2 separate regions of the Homo sapiens genome follow, and region 1 is linked to region 2. The links come from fine-mapping of genetic effects on gene expression. A gene starts in region 2. The other region holds a variant in brackets. All regions are shown on one strand. Distances are from middle to middle.

Region 1 (8,284 bases), 31 kb after region 2:
GCTGGTCTCGAACTCCTGACCTCGAGTGATCCACCTGCCTCGGCCTCCCAAAGTGCTGGGATTACAGGCGTGAGCCACTGCGCCCAGCCAGGAATTTCTTATATATTCTAGATATCAATTCCTTATTGCCTTTAAACTTTGCAAATATCTGCCATTTCTGTCATTTGTCCATCTGTCTCTATTATCCTTTGACAGAAACCTTTAATACCTATACAGTCAAATTTATTTTCTTTTTTCAGCTTTCGGGGCATTGTTTCAGAAGTCTTTGCCTTCTGTTTCAAAGGTCCCCTCTGACATTTTCTGCTATTAGCTTTTATAGATTTACTTTTCACATCCAGGTCTTCCTCATGTGGTTTGTAATTATGAGCTTCTTTTCTGTGTCGTTGTTGTTGTTGTTGTCGTTTTTTGTATTTTTAGTAGAGACGGGGTTTCATCGTGTTAGCCAGGATGGTCTCGATCTCCTGACCTCGTGATCTGCCCGCCTCGGCCTCCCAAAGTGCTGGGATTACAGGCGTGAGCCACCGCGCCCTGCCCTTTTCTGTGTTTTTCTTTTTCTCTATGTGAGTCCCTGTGTTTTTTCTGCTGCATGCTAGAGACCAGTTTTTATGTTAATTTCTTGACTTGAGATTCCTGTATGATACAGAGTATAAATTTGGATGCTATACCTCTGTATGGCATAGACATGCATTTTACCTTTTTTCCTGCTGATGGCCTAGATAATAAGCAACTTTTATTGCTGTTTCCCTGAGCCAGTGAGCAGATTTTTGAGACTGCATATCAAGGAAGGATCAGCATTTGAGGCTCTGGGCTTTATGCAAGGGTCTCAGTGCTAACTCCCCACCTTCTACCTGCCTGAAGCTACATTTGCAGTCTCCATGTGAGTATTAATGCTTCCTCCTCCCAGCTTAGGGCCTGTACAGGAGTTTGAAACCCCTGTAGGCCACCATGGTCTCAATTCCCACTTACTGTTCTAGCTTTGATTTTGATGTTTCTTTCATTTCAGGTACCTAGGGATTTCTTTTCTTTAATTTTTTTTCAAGCCTATGTATTTTAAAAGCATTTTTATGTTTTATCCAGCATTTCTGTGTATTTGTAGTGGGAGAAAAAGAGCCATTTACTTCAGCTCAGTGTGCCATTTTGCCAAAAGTCTGTTTTTTAATTATTATTGCATTAATCTCAGTAAATTTTCAATTTTAGACATTGCCAACTTAGATTCATTATGTAGCCATTGACCACCCTTGAATGTTTTAGGCCTTAACGGTTCCCATTTTCCTTTCATTGCTCAAGCTTATAATCACCTTTTTAGTATCTATATATTGGTAAGCCAGATAATTAGGTTCAGTTTTCTTTTTAACCTTGCCCAGTTGCTCATTCTGCTGAAGTTTTTCTTTTTCTCTTCTTATTTAGTTGTTCACAAAAACATTAAATAGCTCTGACCACATAATGCTTGAAATATCTCCCTCTGCATCTTGGGTGAATCTTCTCTTGTTTAATCTGATGTGGGTACCCTCCCCAGAAACTTAAAAGCAACCTTTTAAGTTTGAGTCTATCCCGAAAATATAATTCCAGTCACTTGTTTCTTACTAATAAGAATGTTTAAAAAGATCTAATGTATGTCCAGGTAAGTCTTTTGGTTTACTGTAATCCGTAAGACTTATGTCTTGTTTTACCAAAAAAAAAAAAAAAAAAAAAAAAAAAATCACATTACATTGGTGTAATTTGTTTCTTAGAAAAACCTCATCAGTGCCTGTTTATGGTCTTTTGTTATTTGCAAATTGAATTCTTGTTCAGATTTTTCTCAAATATTAATTTAAATATTTATTTAAATATTAAAACTAGAAAAAAATGTTTTTCTAGTTTTAAATCTTATGGAATTTTCCCCTCCTCTTTCCATAAAACACCAAGAGATAAAAATTCCAGTCGCCTACTAGAGCTACTTCTATTAGATAAAAGCCACTTACCTCCTAGGACTGTTCTTCATTTGTTTAAAAATATATGTGCATTTTTATAATATAGATTAAAACAGACTGTATTCAAAAAGTAGGGGTAGACATTCTTAAAGATTTTCTTTGAGCAAGCTGAAAACAATCATATGAATTCATGAATGCCCAACAATATTAGGTACATGGTATAGAAGGGGCTTGGGGTAGTTAGAACTGAAACATTTATATTTATTTCAGCAAATCTTTATTTTAATTAATAAACTATTTTTTTAGAGCAGTTTGAGGTACATGCAAAATTAAGCGGAAATTACAGAGGGTTTGCAGATCCCTCCCCACTCCCATTCTCCACACATGCACAACCTGTCCCACCATCCATGTCTCACACCATATTGGTACATTTCTTATAATTGATGAACCTACATTGACACATAATTCTTACCCGGAGTCCATAGTTTACATCAGGGTTCACTGTTGGTGTTGTGCATTCTGTGGGTTTTGACAAATGTATAATGACTTATATTTGCCATTGTAGATTCATGAAGAATAATTTCACTGCCCTAAAAATCCTCTGTGCTTTGCTTATTCATCCCTCCCTCTCCTCTAACCCCTGGCGATCACTGGTCTTTTTTACTATCTATATATTTACCTTTTCCAGAACGTCATATATTTGGAATTATAAAGTATGTAGCATTTTCAGATTGACTTCTTTCACTTAGAAATATGCATTTAAGGCCGGGTGCGGTGGCTCACGCCTGTAATCTGTAATCCCAGCACTTTGGGAGGCCGAGGCAGGTGGATCACGAGGTCAGGAGATCGAGACCATCCTGGCTAACACAGTGAAACCCGGTCTCTACTAAAAATACAAAAAAATTAGCCAGGCGTGGTGGCGGGCGCCTGTAGTCCTAGCTACTCGGGAGGCTGAGGCAGGAGAATGGTGTGAACCCGGGAGGCAGAGCTTGCAGTGAGCCGAGATCACGCCACTGCACTCCAGCCCGGGCGACAGAGCAGGACTCCGTCTCAAAAAAAAAAAAAAAGAAATATGCATTTAAGTTTCCTCCCTGTCTTTTCATGGCTTTATGTCTCATATCTTTTTAGCACTTTTTAGTCCATTGTCTGGATGTACCACAGTTTATTCATTATATCTACTTCTTGGTTGCTTCCAAATTTTGGCAATTATGAATAAAGCTGCTTTATAAGTATCATGTGTAGGCTTTTGTGTGGCCATAAGTCTTCAACCCCTTTGGTTAATTACCAAGGAATGTGATTACTAGATCATGTGGCAAGAGTATGTTTGGTTTTGTAAGAAACTGTTAATCTGTAGAATGTCTGTACTATTTTGCATTCCCACCGGCATTGAATGAAAGTTCCTGTTTCTCTACATCCTCGTCAGCATTTAGTATTCCCTGTGTTTTGGATTTTGGTCATTCTGATAGGTGTGTGATGGTATCTTGTTTTAATTTGCAATTCTCTAAAGACATACCATGTACAACATCTTTTCATTTGCTTATTTGTCATCTGCATATCTTCTTTGATGAGGTGTCTGTTCAGGTCTTCTGCTATTTTTTAATTGGGTTGTTTTCTTATTGTTGAGTTTTGAGAGTTCTTTGTGTATTTTGGATAATAGTCTTTTATCAGGTGTGTTTTTTGCAAATATTTTCTCCCAGTCTGTGGCTTGTCTTTTCATTCTTTTGACATTGTCTTTCATGGAGCAAAATTTATTTCTGTCATGGATTGTGCCTTTGGTGTTGTACCTAAAAAGACTGCCATAGCCAAAGTCAACTAAGTTTTCTCCTATGTTAACTTCTAGGAATTATAATTTTGTATTTTACATATAGGTCTCTGATGTATTTTAAGTTAATTTTTGTGAAGGGTGTAAGGTCTATGTCTAGATTCATTTTTTCGTATGTGAATGTCCAGTTGGTTCCAGCATCACTTGTTGAAAAGATACTCTTTGCTTCATTTTAGTGCCTTTGCTCCTTTGTCAAAGATGAATTGACTATATTTGTGTGGGTCTGTTTCTGGGCTTTCTGTTCTGTTCCACTGGTCTACTTGTCTATTCTTTCACCAATACCACATTGTCTTCATTATTGTAGCTTTAAAATAGTAAATGTTGAAGTCATTATCAGTCCTCCAACTTCAGTCTTCTCCTTCAATATTGAGTTAGCTATTTTGGTCATGGGGAAGATCTGAGTCTCTGAAAATATTGAATATTTCTATCTAACAACATGGGATATCTCTCCATTTTTAAAGTTCTTTGATATCTTTCATCAGAGTTTTGTTGTTTTCTTCATATAGATCTTGTACATATTTTGTTAGATTTATACCTAAGTATTTCTCTTTTTGGGGTGCTAGTGTAAATGGTAAAGTTTTTAATTTCAAATTCTACCTTATTGCTGGTATATAGGAAAACAATTGGCTTTTGTATATTAACCTTATGTCTTACAACTTTGTTATAATCTCTTATTAGTTCCAGGAGGTTTTTTGTCATTTCTCTTTAATTTTCTGTAAAGACAATCATGTAGTCTGCAAACAAAGACAGTTTTAACTTCCTTCCCAATCAGTATACCTTCTATTTCCTTTTCTTGTCTTGTTGCATTAGCTAGGACTTCCAGTACAGTGTTTAAGATCAGTGGTGAACTGGGATATCCCAGCCTTGTTTATAATCCCAGCAGGAAGACTTTGAGTTTCTCACCATTATGAGTGATGCCAGCTGTAGGTTTTTTGTAGATGTTCTTTATGAAGTTGAGGCAGTTCCCCTCTATTTCTAGTTTGTTGGAGTTTTTATCATGAATGGGCATTGGATTTCTGCCAGATGCTTTTTCTGCAGCTTTCTGTTGACATGTTCACATGATTTTTCTTCTTTAGCCTGTTGATGCGATGGATCACATTAATTGATTTTGAATGTTGAACCAGCCTTGCATACCTGTGAGAAGTCCCATTTGGCTATGATGTATAATTCTCTTTAGGCAT[T/A]GTTAGAGTCAAGTTGCTAATATTTTGTTGAGGATTTTTGCATCTATCTTAACGAGAGATACTGGTCTGTGGTTTTCTTTTCTTGTAATGTCTCTGTGTGGTTTTGGTAGAGGGTTAATGTTGGCCTCAAAGAATGAGTTGGGAAATATTCCCTCTGCTTCTATCTTCTGGAAGAGTTTGTAGAGAATTGGTATAATTTCTTTCTTAAATATTGGGTGGAACTCATTAGTGAACACATCTGGGGCTGTTGCTTCCACTTTGGGGAGGTTATTGTTGATTCACCTACTTTAATAGATATAGGCCTATTCAGATAGTCTATTGCTGCGTGTGTGAGTTTTGACAGATTGCATCGTTCAAGGAATTGGATCATTTTATTTAGGTTATATTTGTGGACATTCATAAATTACCTTATATTTTTAATGTATATGGGGTATACAGTGATACTGATATTAATAAATTGTATTGTCTATTTTTTTTTCTTTGTTACCATGGCCATCTTTGATTTTCTGACATTTGAAAACTATATGCCTAGGCTCAATGTCTTGAGTTTCCTGGATCTGTGATGTGGTGTCTGTCATTAATTTGGGGAAATTCTCAGTCATTATTGCATCAAATATTGCTGCTTTTCTCTCTTCCCCTTCTGGTGTCCCCATTTTGCATTAGTTATTTCTTTTCTAGTCTTCCCACTGTTAGATATTCTGTTCTGTTTTCTTCTTCTTTTTTTACTTTGCTTTTTCGTTTTGGATTGTTACGTCTTCAAGCTAGGAGATTCTTTCCTCAGTCGTGTCCAGTCTACTAATGAGCTCATCAAAGGCAGTCTTCATTTCTGTTATGGTGTTTTTTATCTCTAGCATTTCTTTTTGATTCTTTCTTAGAATTTCCATTTCTCTGCTTACATTATCCATCTATTCTTACATGTTTTGTACTTTTTCCATTAAAGCCCCTGGCTATTTAATCATAGTCTTAAAAAAAAAAAATCCTGGTGTGCTAATTCGGACATTCTTGCTATATCTGAGTCTGGTTTTGAAGTTTGCTCTGTCTCTCCAAACTGTTTTTGGGTTTTGTCTGTTTGTTTGTCTTTTAGTATGCCTTGTAATTTTTTGTTGAAAGGTGGACATGATGTACTGCATAAAAGGAACTGCTATAGCTAGGCCTTTAGTGATGTGGTAGTAGGGTGCAGGGGAGGAGAAGCTTTCTGTAGTCCTGGGATTCAGTCTCAATCTTTTGGTGAGCTTGTGCCCCTGGGCTGTGAACTTCCCAAGTGCTCTCAGGCTTTTTTGCTCCTTAGATGGTACAGGATGGCTAGAGGGAGCTGGAGTTGGGTATTTGTTTTTTTCCAGGTAGGTTAGGCTCTGAGAAAACTGTAGCCAGTTAGGCTCTTGTAAAATAGTTTTCTTGAAGGCAGGCCTTGTTAAAAACAGAGTGCTCTGGCAGATTTCAAAATGGTTCCTTTTCCCTCTCCCGCTGCTGGAAGCAAGAGGGGATTTTTCTTCACTATTCGTTGTGAGGACTTGTTAGAGCTCTAGGAGGTAAAGCTCACAGAAGTGTTGGGGGACCCCTATGACTGAGTCCCCCCCAGAGTTTTTAACTCTCAGAGTTGTGCACACTGAGCCTCCAGTGATTCGATTGCAGTTCAGGTTTTCTTAACCTGGCACTTGTTCCTACAGAGGCGTTTGTTCATACATTTTTTTTGTTTTGTTTTGTTTTGTTTTGTTTTGTTTTTTGAGACGGAGTCTCCCTCTGTTGCCCAGGCTGGAGTACAGTGGCATGATCTGGGCTCACTGCAGCCTCTGCCTCCTAGGTTCAAGTTATTCTCCTGCCTCAGCCTCTGAATAGCTGGGGTTCCAGGTGCCCGCCACCATGCCTGACTAATTTGTGTAATTTTAGTAGAGACGAGGTTTTGCCATGTTGACCAGGCTGGTCTCGAACTCCTGACCTCAAGTGATCCGCCCGCCTCAGCCTCCCAAAGTGCTGGGATTACAAGCGTGAGCTGCTGCGCCTGGCTTGTGTTTTTTGTTCAATAAGTTGTGATTCTCTGTGTCTGCCTGTCTGTCTCTAATTTTAGGAACAGTGATTTGCCCTGTGACCTTTCTTTTCTGACGAATTAAAGAAGAGTTGTTGATTTTTCAGTTTGTTCAGTCTGTTTGCTTTTAGGACGTGGTGACTTCTAAGCTCCTGACATACCAGAATGGAAACTGGAACTCTGAAATATTTTTATTTATATTTTTATCTGTCAATTTCAGTGTCAGTAAATGTAGAAATGGTGGAGTGGAAAGAGAATCATCCATAATCCTCTAACAAAAGCAATTACTGGTTTTTTGACATATGTCTTTCCGCCCTTTTCTTAGCGTACTTTTTTCTTTTACAAGTGAGATTACATAATTTCCTCAAACATCCTCAAAGATAAGATCCTCAAACCCAAAACTGAACTAGATGTCTCTTCCCCTAAACTGTCTGTTCTTGTATTATCTGGATCATCTTATCATCCACCCATTCACCAAGCCAGGAACCTGGGAATTGTTTCTCTCTGTCCTTCACATCCATTCAGTCCCTAAGTCATGACAGCTATACTTTGCAATGTTTTTTTGGCTCTCTCCTATTACCAGTTCTCCTGCTTGAAGCCCTCATTGATTTTCTCCTGATCTCCTGCAATAATAGAGCCCGTCTCCAGCATTATCCCCCTCAAATTCTGTACACATGTTACTTAGGTGGTATATTTAAAATGCATATCTGACCACATGACTTTGCTGCTTAAAGCCTTTCAAATGCCTCAATGGCTGCTCATTGCTTTTAGGATAACCTCCAAGCTCGTAAGCATGGCCTATATATCCCTCTGTGGCCAACACCCCTGCCTGCCTCTCCAGATTCATCTCTTAACACTCCTATTCCCTGCTTTATGTTCCAGTAATAATCTCAGTTCCTAATCCTCCTGCCTGCTACCACGGGATGTTTTCTTATCTGCATGCCTCATGCAGGCGTCCCTGCCAGGATTGCCTTTTCCTCCCATTCTTTTTACCTCATCTGTGCGTCCGTATCTTTTAAGACACAGGTCAGCTGTTTTTCCCTCAAAGCTTTACTCTAACTCCTGGACTCTCCTATCCCCCAAACTGTGTTTGTGTGTACAAATCCATCATTATGTTGCCTTTTAGTTATTTATTCATTCTACCAAGTAATCAACAGTATTTGTGTTAAGCAGAATTTTAAGCACTGGGATACAGCAGGTGATAAAATTAAGTTCTTACCCTAATGGAGCTTACATTCTAGTGAAGGAAGATAGATAATAACAAATAAAAATATAGTATGTCAGTAGGCGATAAGTGCTATGCTGAAAAACAAAGCAGACGAAGGAGCGGGATGTTCTGAGGTTGGAG
Region 2 (8,311 bases):
GTTGTGTTATTTCTTTTTTTCTTTTTAAATTTTTTTTTTTTGAGACAGTCTTGCCCCGTCATCCAGACTGCAGTGCAGTGGCGTGATTTCGGCTCACTGCAACCTCTGCCTCCCAGGTTCAAGCAATTCTCTTGCCTCAGCCTCCTGAGTAGCTGGGATTACAAGCCAGCACCACCATGCCCAACTAATTTTTTTTGTATTTTTAGTAGAGATGGGGTTTCACCATGTTGGCCAGGCTGGTCTTGAACTCCTGACCTCATGATCCGCCTGCCTCGGCCTCCCAAAGTGCTGGGATTACAGGTGTGAGCCACCGCAGCCGGCCGGTTGTTATTTCTTACTACGGCCAGGAACATGTTTTGTTGACCTCAGTGTTCTTGGCATATAGTAGTCACTCTGGAAACAGCTGGCAGTTTAGCAGAGGCACCTCGGGCATCTTACACTGGGTGGTGGCATGGGAACACTCTTTTCTAAAGTAGAAAAAAAGTTGAAAAGTTCTCAACCCTCCCCCTCAAAGTCAAGGTTTGGGTCCTTCTGGTGATCGGGAAGCACAGGTTATTTCTCCGCAGCTGTCGAAGCTCTGTGGGGAGATGAGGCCCTTACAAGGTCTAGAAGGTCTAGCCATTGTCTTCTTATTCTTCCATATCATGACCAGCCAGAAGCCAGAGCCATTGCTCTCCATGACAGTATGTCGTTGTTCATGAACTGTAGGCAAGTCAGCCCCATGAGAACTTCTGTTAATGCAAAACCTTAAGTAAATGGTGATGGGGAAACTGCAGCCACTGATCCACTGACTGTGGATACATGTGTGGGGTGTGTTGGGAGATGTCTAAAACAATCCCCCCAGGGAAAGATTCCTTTCCATATTTCCTAAATATTTTATAATAAGCATGTATTCATTTAAAAAAAGTTATAGAAAGCCTCTTCTTTGTCACTGCTGTCCCAATAACTGAGTACACTTGGTGGCCACTTTTCTTTTGCTCTCTTCGTTTAGTCCCTATAGGATTTGAAGTCTTGTTAAGTGGAACAGGAGGGACAGATGGTGCCTGAAAACTTATTCCTATTGAGACTCCTGAGCTTCAAGCCATCTGCATTCACATACAGCACATTGGCAATGATACTGTTTTTTAAAATCCATTAATTCGATAAATATTTCTCTTTTTTTTTTTTTTGAGACGGAGTCTCGCTCTCGTTGCCCAGGCTGGAGTGCAGTGGCGTGATCTCAGCTCACTCCAACCTCCGCCTCCCAGGTTCAAGCGATTCTCCTGCCTCAGCATCCTGAGTAACTGGGATTACAGGCACCTGCCACCATGCCCAGGTAATTTTTCTATTTTTAGTAGAGACGGGGGTTTCACCATGTTGGCCAGGCTGGTCTCGAACTCCTGACCTCAGGTGATCCGCCTGCCTCGGCCTCCCAAAATGCTCCCAAAATGCCCAGTGGCTCACACCTGTAATCCCATTAACTCGATAAATATTTCTAGAGCACCTACTATGTGCCAAGCACCCTTCTAGGTGTTTGTTTGCTAAATCTAGCAACCCTATGTTCCCACTAAAAGAGAATGTGAGGCTGGTGGAAATGAGGGCTTAGGAGACACAACAGCTGTAGGCGTGGTTCCAGTTACTACAAAAGTGACTAAATAACAGCTACAGTAAATCCGACCCTGAATGTAACGGTGACATGAGTATAATAGTGAAAGTGACTAACTGGGCACAAGGGTATGAGGACAACAGTGTACCCTGAAGGGGCCTGTTAAATACTGGCTTGACTGTGTGGCAGCAAAAGTGGCTGCATGACAATGACAGTGAAAACAACAGAAAGGGCAACAGCTGGGCAAACAAAGTGCTATTTTGAACAGAACCGTTTGAAGTTTATGGTCAATGACGGTAGCTGCATGTCAGACAGTGACAGTAAATATGATCGACCGGGAGACAGCAACAATGCAAGTGACAGTTCTGCCCAGTAGATTGAATTTGTGATGTAAAACGGTGATGGGGTGAGTCAGTCAGCCAGAGACAGCTCTCAGAACGACTGAATATTGACATTGCAGATGGAAAAGGTATAACCACAGAGGAAGCTGGACATTGCACTAAGATGGCTGGATTTGGGCACGTAACTGTCAGGGACAGAAAAAGTGGCTGCATGTCAGTGACAGGGTGACTGTGTTCAGTGGGCCAGCGCGGAGGTGACTCAGTTTGTTACTGCTGGATCTGATTTAAATGTTTGTGTAAGGAAGGGTGGCAAGGGGACGCTTCAACAGGGAACGCATAGTGTGTGAGAAGGAAAATGAGCAAAAGAAAAGCTAGGACTAAATCCCAAAGCCCCTAAATCCCAAAATTGGGAGGTGCGAGAGGCAGGATCAGGATGCCTCCAGGATGCCTTCAGCCCACTGCGCCCCACCAGCGCCAAGCCTGTCCCACAAAGAGTGCGGGCTGGGGACGCGGCTCAGGTCGCCTCTCCGCCTCGCACGTGAATGTGTTGTTTTGGAAAAACGAAGCCTTTTGTGTTCACTTCCTTGCCCTCCTTTGAAACAAAATCCTAATCCTAGAGCTGCCGGAGCGAGACTGCGGAGCTCCATTAGAACTTTCCTTAGGGCCGGGCATGGTGGGAGGCCGAGGCAGGTGGATCATCTGGGCTCAGGAGTTCGGGACCAGCCTGGCCAACATGGTGACATCCTGTCTCTACTAAAAATAGAAGAGAAAAAAAAAATTAGCAGGGCGTGGTGGCGCGCGCCTGTAATCCCAGCTACTCGGGAGGCTGAGGCAGGAGAATCGCTTGAACCTGGAAGGCGGAGGCTGCAGTGGGGCGAGATCGCGCCGCTACACTCCAGCCTGGGAAACAAGAGCGAATCTCCCATCTCAAAAAAAAAAAAAAGAAAAAAACTTTACTTAGGAAGTGTGGGGAGGGAAGGAGGGAGTGGCCAAGGTCAGAGGTCAGAGAAGAGCCTAGCAACCAGCCGGCCCCCGCCGTCCTAGCATAGGTGGAGAGCGAGCGCGTGACGCAGGCCCCGCCCCCAGCACGTGACCGCGGCGCGTGGGGCAGGTCGGGCCGCCCCCTCCCCTCTGATACCCATTGCGCGCCGGCCTCAAGATGGCCGCCTTCTGGCGTCTCCGGCGCTGTTGAATGGCGAAAGCTTTATTGTTCCCTTCGGGCAGGAGTGTTCGTGTCCTCTATGGCGCTGTCAATAAAGAACGGCAGTTTGAATCGGTGCTGAACAGGTAACCATAGAAACGGGGCTGGGACTCCGCGTGGAGACCCTTCCTGCAGCGGGGGCCCGGGTGCGCCCTAAATGAGGGGTGTATACAGACCCTTCCGCGTGGCGAACTCCGCGGGACTCGGCCGAATCACGGCCGCCTCACCTACACCCCGGACGTGCCCCCTCCAGGGGCGGTCCGCACCCCTGGCGCCGGCTCTGCTGTAGACTGCGGAGGGGAGAGACCGCGGGGACCCACTCAGGGCGCCAGGCCCGACCTGACACCGCCTGGGGCTCGCTGTCGCCCCGCACCTCCCTCTCGGCCCGTCCGGAGGCCTCTTGTCGCTGTCTCACTCCCCCTCCCTTCAGGTCCCTTCGCCGGGCGTCAGCGGACTATGGCCTTGGGCCTAATCCATGCCCCCCTTCTCTCTTCCCCTCTCGGTCTTTGTTTACAGTTGCAAATGGTTAGGGGGAAGAATATTTCATGTAATTTGCGAAAGTTCTATGAAATCAAGTCCATAAATGAAGTTTTATTGGAACACGGCCCTGTTCATTGTTGATGTATTGTCTATGGCTGCTTTCCTGCCAAGAGGGCAGAGCTGAGTAGTTGCGCAGCCGTTGCTTGGCTTTGATCGGCTGGCTCACAAAGCCAGAAATATTTCTGTCTGGTCCCTTACAGCAAAAGTTTACTGACCCCTGCCCTAAACACAAGGAGATTGGATCAGTGTTGTCATTCAGCTATTCCTCTCGTCGGTTCTTCTGGAGTGGGAAAAGAGTTAAAACTGCGCGATGCACCGAGAGCACTTTAGTTGACAGAACACTCTGGCTTCCCTTCTGGTCTTACTGACTATTCAGAGTTTCTCCTGCTTTGAATAGCGTTGGTACCATGCAGCCAGTGCTGCAATGAACCAGGTGCTTTATTTATATTCATACAAGTGTTGTTCTACTTTATGACGACGCTTTATAAGTAAGTATGGTATTTCCATTTTACAAACGAGGAAGAAATTTGTTCTGAGTGGTTAATATATGTATAGGTGTACTAGGTTATAGGGCTGCCAAATTGAGCCTGTCCCTGGGAGCCCCCTGCCTGATGGCACCGGTCAAACTGCTTTGGATTTTATTCTTTCAAGTCTTTTCTACCTGGAATTGTTTGTTCTTCCCTGGAATTGTACCCAGATCTTTGTATGGTTAATGGAGATTTAATTACAATCTCAGTGAAATTTTTTTCTACTTAGCTAAATCATCAAACTTCTGCCCCTCCTTTCTAATATAAACACTTTTCTTCTATGTCAGTAGTCCCCAAACTTAGCTATTCATTAGTGGTTTAACAAATGGTTTCAGAACACCCCATGCATGTACGCATGCATTCATTAATCATTTAGTGTTTGTTGAGCACTTACTGTGTACCAGAGACGTTTCAAATTCCTGGAAATACAGTGGTGAACAAGACAAATATGATTTCTGCCCTTCCATGGAATTTAAATTCTATGTGGGGCTTGGACAAGTGGTATACAGGTAGACAAAGATAATTTCAAATACAGCTGTAATAGCATCATCATAATAAAATTATTAGTTGCTATTTACTGAGTGATTATTTTGTGCCAGGTACTGTGCTAAGTGCTTTATTTATATGGACTATCACTTAATCCTCACACCAATACTATGACATAAGTAGTATTAATATTACCATTTTACGCATAGAGGAAACAAACTCACGTCGGAGAGATGTTCGAGGTTACATAGCTAAGGCATTCAGCTGAGAGCTGAAGCTAATCTGATCACACTGAACACCCTGTATTGTTCCATCTGTTTATTGTCTTTCCTACTAGCTTAGGAGGTCCTTAAGGGCAGGGACCACACCTTACTGTTGTTATCCTCAGCTGCTAGCCAGTACCCACAACCTGGTGTTTGCAGGTAAATACCAAGTAAACAAATCTAGGTCATTCATTGAACAAATTTTTATTTTATTTTATTTTATTTATTTTTTTGAGACAGAGTCTCGCTGTGTTGCCCAGGCTGGAGTGCAGTGGCACAATCTCGGCTCACTGCAACCTCCGCCTCCCGGGTTCAAGTGATTCTTCTGCCTCAACCTCCTGAATGGCTGGGACTACAGGCATGTGCCACGACACCCGGCTAATTTTTTGTGTGTTTTTAGTAGAGACAGAGTTTCACCATGTTGTTCAGGCTGGTCTTGAAGTCTTGACCTCAAGTGATCTGCCCGCCTCAGCCTCCCAAAGTGCTGGGATTATAGGCGTGAGCCATCGCGCCCGGCCTCGAACAAATATTTTAGTGTCTCCATGTACCAAGCACCACTGTCTAGGTCCTGTGATTACCAGGGTGAGCAAGATGGACCTGGGGCTCTGTTCTGGAAGCTAAAGCCTAGTGTCAAGACAGTAAAGAAATAACAAAGTTATTCCAAATTGTGGCAACTGCTCTAAAGGAAATAAAACAGCACGGAGAGAGACACTAACCTGGGAGACTCACTTTTTATCTGGGTGGTCAGGGAAAACCTCTCTTAAGAAAGGCAGTTTAAGCTGAAACTTGTTGAGTGACAAGGAACCAGTCTAGCAAGAAGGGGAAAGGGAGAGACGAAGCTGGGAGGAAGAACTTTTCAGCAGGTTCAGAGACTAAGGTGGGTAACAACGTGAGATGTTGGAGAACTCAAAGGGAGTCACTGTGCTGTGGTTCACTCCTGTGCTCAGTCCCTGGCCGTGAACCCAGCTACTACTGAGAGAACTGCACGCCCAAGGGCAAGTTACAGATTAGTTATCTGACCTGGAAAATGTGGATAATGGTGCCTCCTCAAAGGGTTGTGCAGATTAAATAAGAGAAACTGTATTCATAGCTATGGTATTTTCTTTTTGTTGTTGTTACACATATTGCTGAATAACCAAATTTAGCTCCAAATGGAAACTTTATAAAGTGCTAACTAATAACAAAAATCCAGAAATACATTACAGACAAAATTAAGAATGGGGGAATCCAATTAAAAATAGAAGCCCTCTACTTTCTATCTCCAGAAAGAGGGGAGCAGATCTTGTTTTTTCTTAGTGTTTCTGCTTGGAGAGGAACTTTTCCAAATGGCATCTAATTTTTTTAAAGCCAAATTGTACAGCTGTCTATGCAGAACACTTTTCAGCATTTTAGTGTTTTAAGTTGGAAACTACTTATGTTCCTCCATCAAAGGTGTATGTATTCTCTTAAGGCATTCTAAACAAATGTTAGACTTTTAGTTGGTGGCGATTTAAAAATTTGTTTGTGCATGATTTCAAGTTTCCTCCAAAAGTTTTCAAAATAATGTCACATACTCTAAAACAGTATTGAATGCTTTGAGGCAAATGGCAGGCTTTTTGACTAAGTAAAAATAGGATAATGTTCGGGTTCATAAATGTAAGAAATTAGAAGCAATAATAAATCAAGGGAACTATGTAAGAAGAACAGCATGGCAGGTTTCGCTTTAAACTCTCCCTAGTAACCATATTGCACATGTCATCAGAAGACACATTCTAACCCTGCAAACGGAGCAAAGAACTGGACAGAGAGTGTCATTTAATGCAATGTTAAACAACAAGCCCTGAATTAAATTGCTATTTTAGGTTTGGGTGGGACCTTTGCATCTAAAGTATTGCAGTTTTACTCTGTGATTTGGGTCTGTTGGGTTCCAGTAAAGAGCAGGTGCTAACACTAGCTTTGAAGGATAGTATGAAACTGCAAGAAGAGCCAGGGCATACCAGTTTGTTTTTCAGTCTATTTTATTTCAGTTCAAAGCATCATTGCAGACAGGCAGCCCCGGAAAACGAGCCACACTTTGGCAACACTCACCTGCTTTTGGAGATTGAGGAAGACTGAGTATAACCCAAGTGTGGCTTGTTTTCTTGGACTATCTGTCTGCAATGATGCTTTGAACTGAAATAAAATAGATTGAAAAACAAATTAGTATGCCCTGTTGCCTCGTACTGAGTATTTACATTACCCTTCTCGAGTACTGCCTGAACCAGCACCCTGAGGGAAGGCAGTGACCCCTCAGCCTCTTTCAACTCTTCAGCAGAGTGAGCTCTTTGATTTTCACAAGGAAATTGAATTGGGATATATGGTTTTCTGGATCTCCAATAGTCTGCCTTCCAAAGCCATCATCTGGATAATGTGGAGAAAGCAAGCTACTAACCACATAGAGGAAAGAATTAAATATTAAGGGCATTTAAATTGAGAGATGAGATTGTCACTTTCTGTAAGTCTAGCAGAGAGTGCAGTATTTCATTTGCAGGGAGCATGCAGTTTTGAGACTCTGGCAGCCCTCGAGAGAGAAGGATAAGGAAAGAAAGCCAGCTTTCCTTACATTTCCCTAATGTTGTTATTTAACTCCAAATCCTCAAAATTATGATGCCACGTATTTCATTTCCTTACATAAATGTATTATGCTGATCCATGTAAGTCAGAGATTGTTAATCTCAGGGTAAATGGTTGAATTTCAAGAGACCCATGAATCCTTTGAAGTTGCCTGCAAATTTGTGTGAATGTCATTTTTTCTGGGGAGAGAGCCAGTTACTTTAATCTGATCTCAGAAAGGCCCTTGACCCTTTAAAAGGTGCAGAACCAACAATGAAACATCACATGTAACATCACCTAACTGAAGGCGCGATGAGAATCTCCCCTGAAACCAGGTACTGTTTCACTGCTCTGTAACCTTAATCTCAGATTTTAAGTCTTTTCAGGCTTTGTTTTCTGTCTAAAGTGGTCAAGCATAGTTGAATGTTTGTGTAACATAGATATCTGCCCATTGAACTGCTTCATAAATGCCTTACAGATGGTTGTTGTTAATTTACATGAGACTGGTGAGATGTGGACCTATTGTCTAGGCAACCTCGTTAGCAGATATCATAACTGTTTCTACTGATAGAGGAAAGGAGGAGGTAGTGGAAGCTCACTGCTTTGTTTCTAGGCATCAGCTTCTTGCAGATGGAGTCAGTTCCTCAGACTTAACGAAGGCTGGGTTAAAAGGGAAAGAAGGCTGGGCACAGTGGCTCATGCCTGTGATCCCAGCACTCTGGGAGGCTGAGGCAGGAGGATCACTTATGCAAGCCCAGGAGTTGAGGCTGCAGTGAGCTGTGATCAGACCACTGCAT

The links. PIP is the estimated chance that this variant, and not a neighbour inherited with it, causes the effect.
Region 1: its variant is fine-mapped to the expression of ZBTB40 in whole blood (TOPMed, PIP above 0.99).

What each region holds. Positions count from the first base shown.
Region 1 is chr1:22,480,117-22,488,400 of GRCh38, forward strand. The region is part of intron 1 of ZBTB40 (zinc finger and BTB domain containing 40); the gene reads left to right. Among named protein-coding and RNA genes, the nearest start is that of ZBTB40, 32 kb to the left of the region's middle. The variant T/A (reference allele first, on the strand shown) is at 4,914.
Region 2 is chr1:22,448,792-22,457,102 of GRCh38, forward strand. It overlaps ZBTB40 (zinc finger and BTB domain containing 40), which reads left to right and starts at 3,060. Exons shown (of 18, transcript NM_014870.4): 1 at 3,060-3,213. RefSeq lists silencers at 2,305-2,599, 2,914-3,113, 3,454-3,543 and enhancers at 2,989-3,550, 3,264-3,343.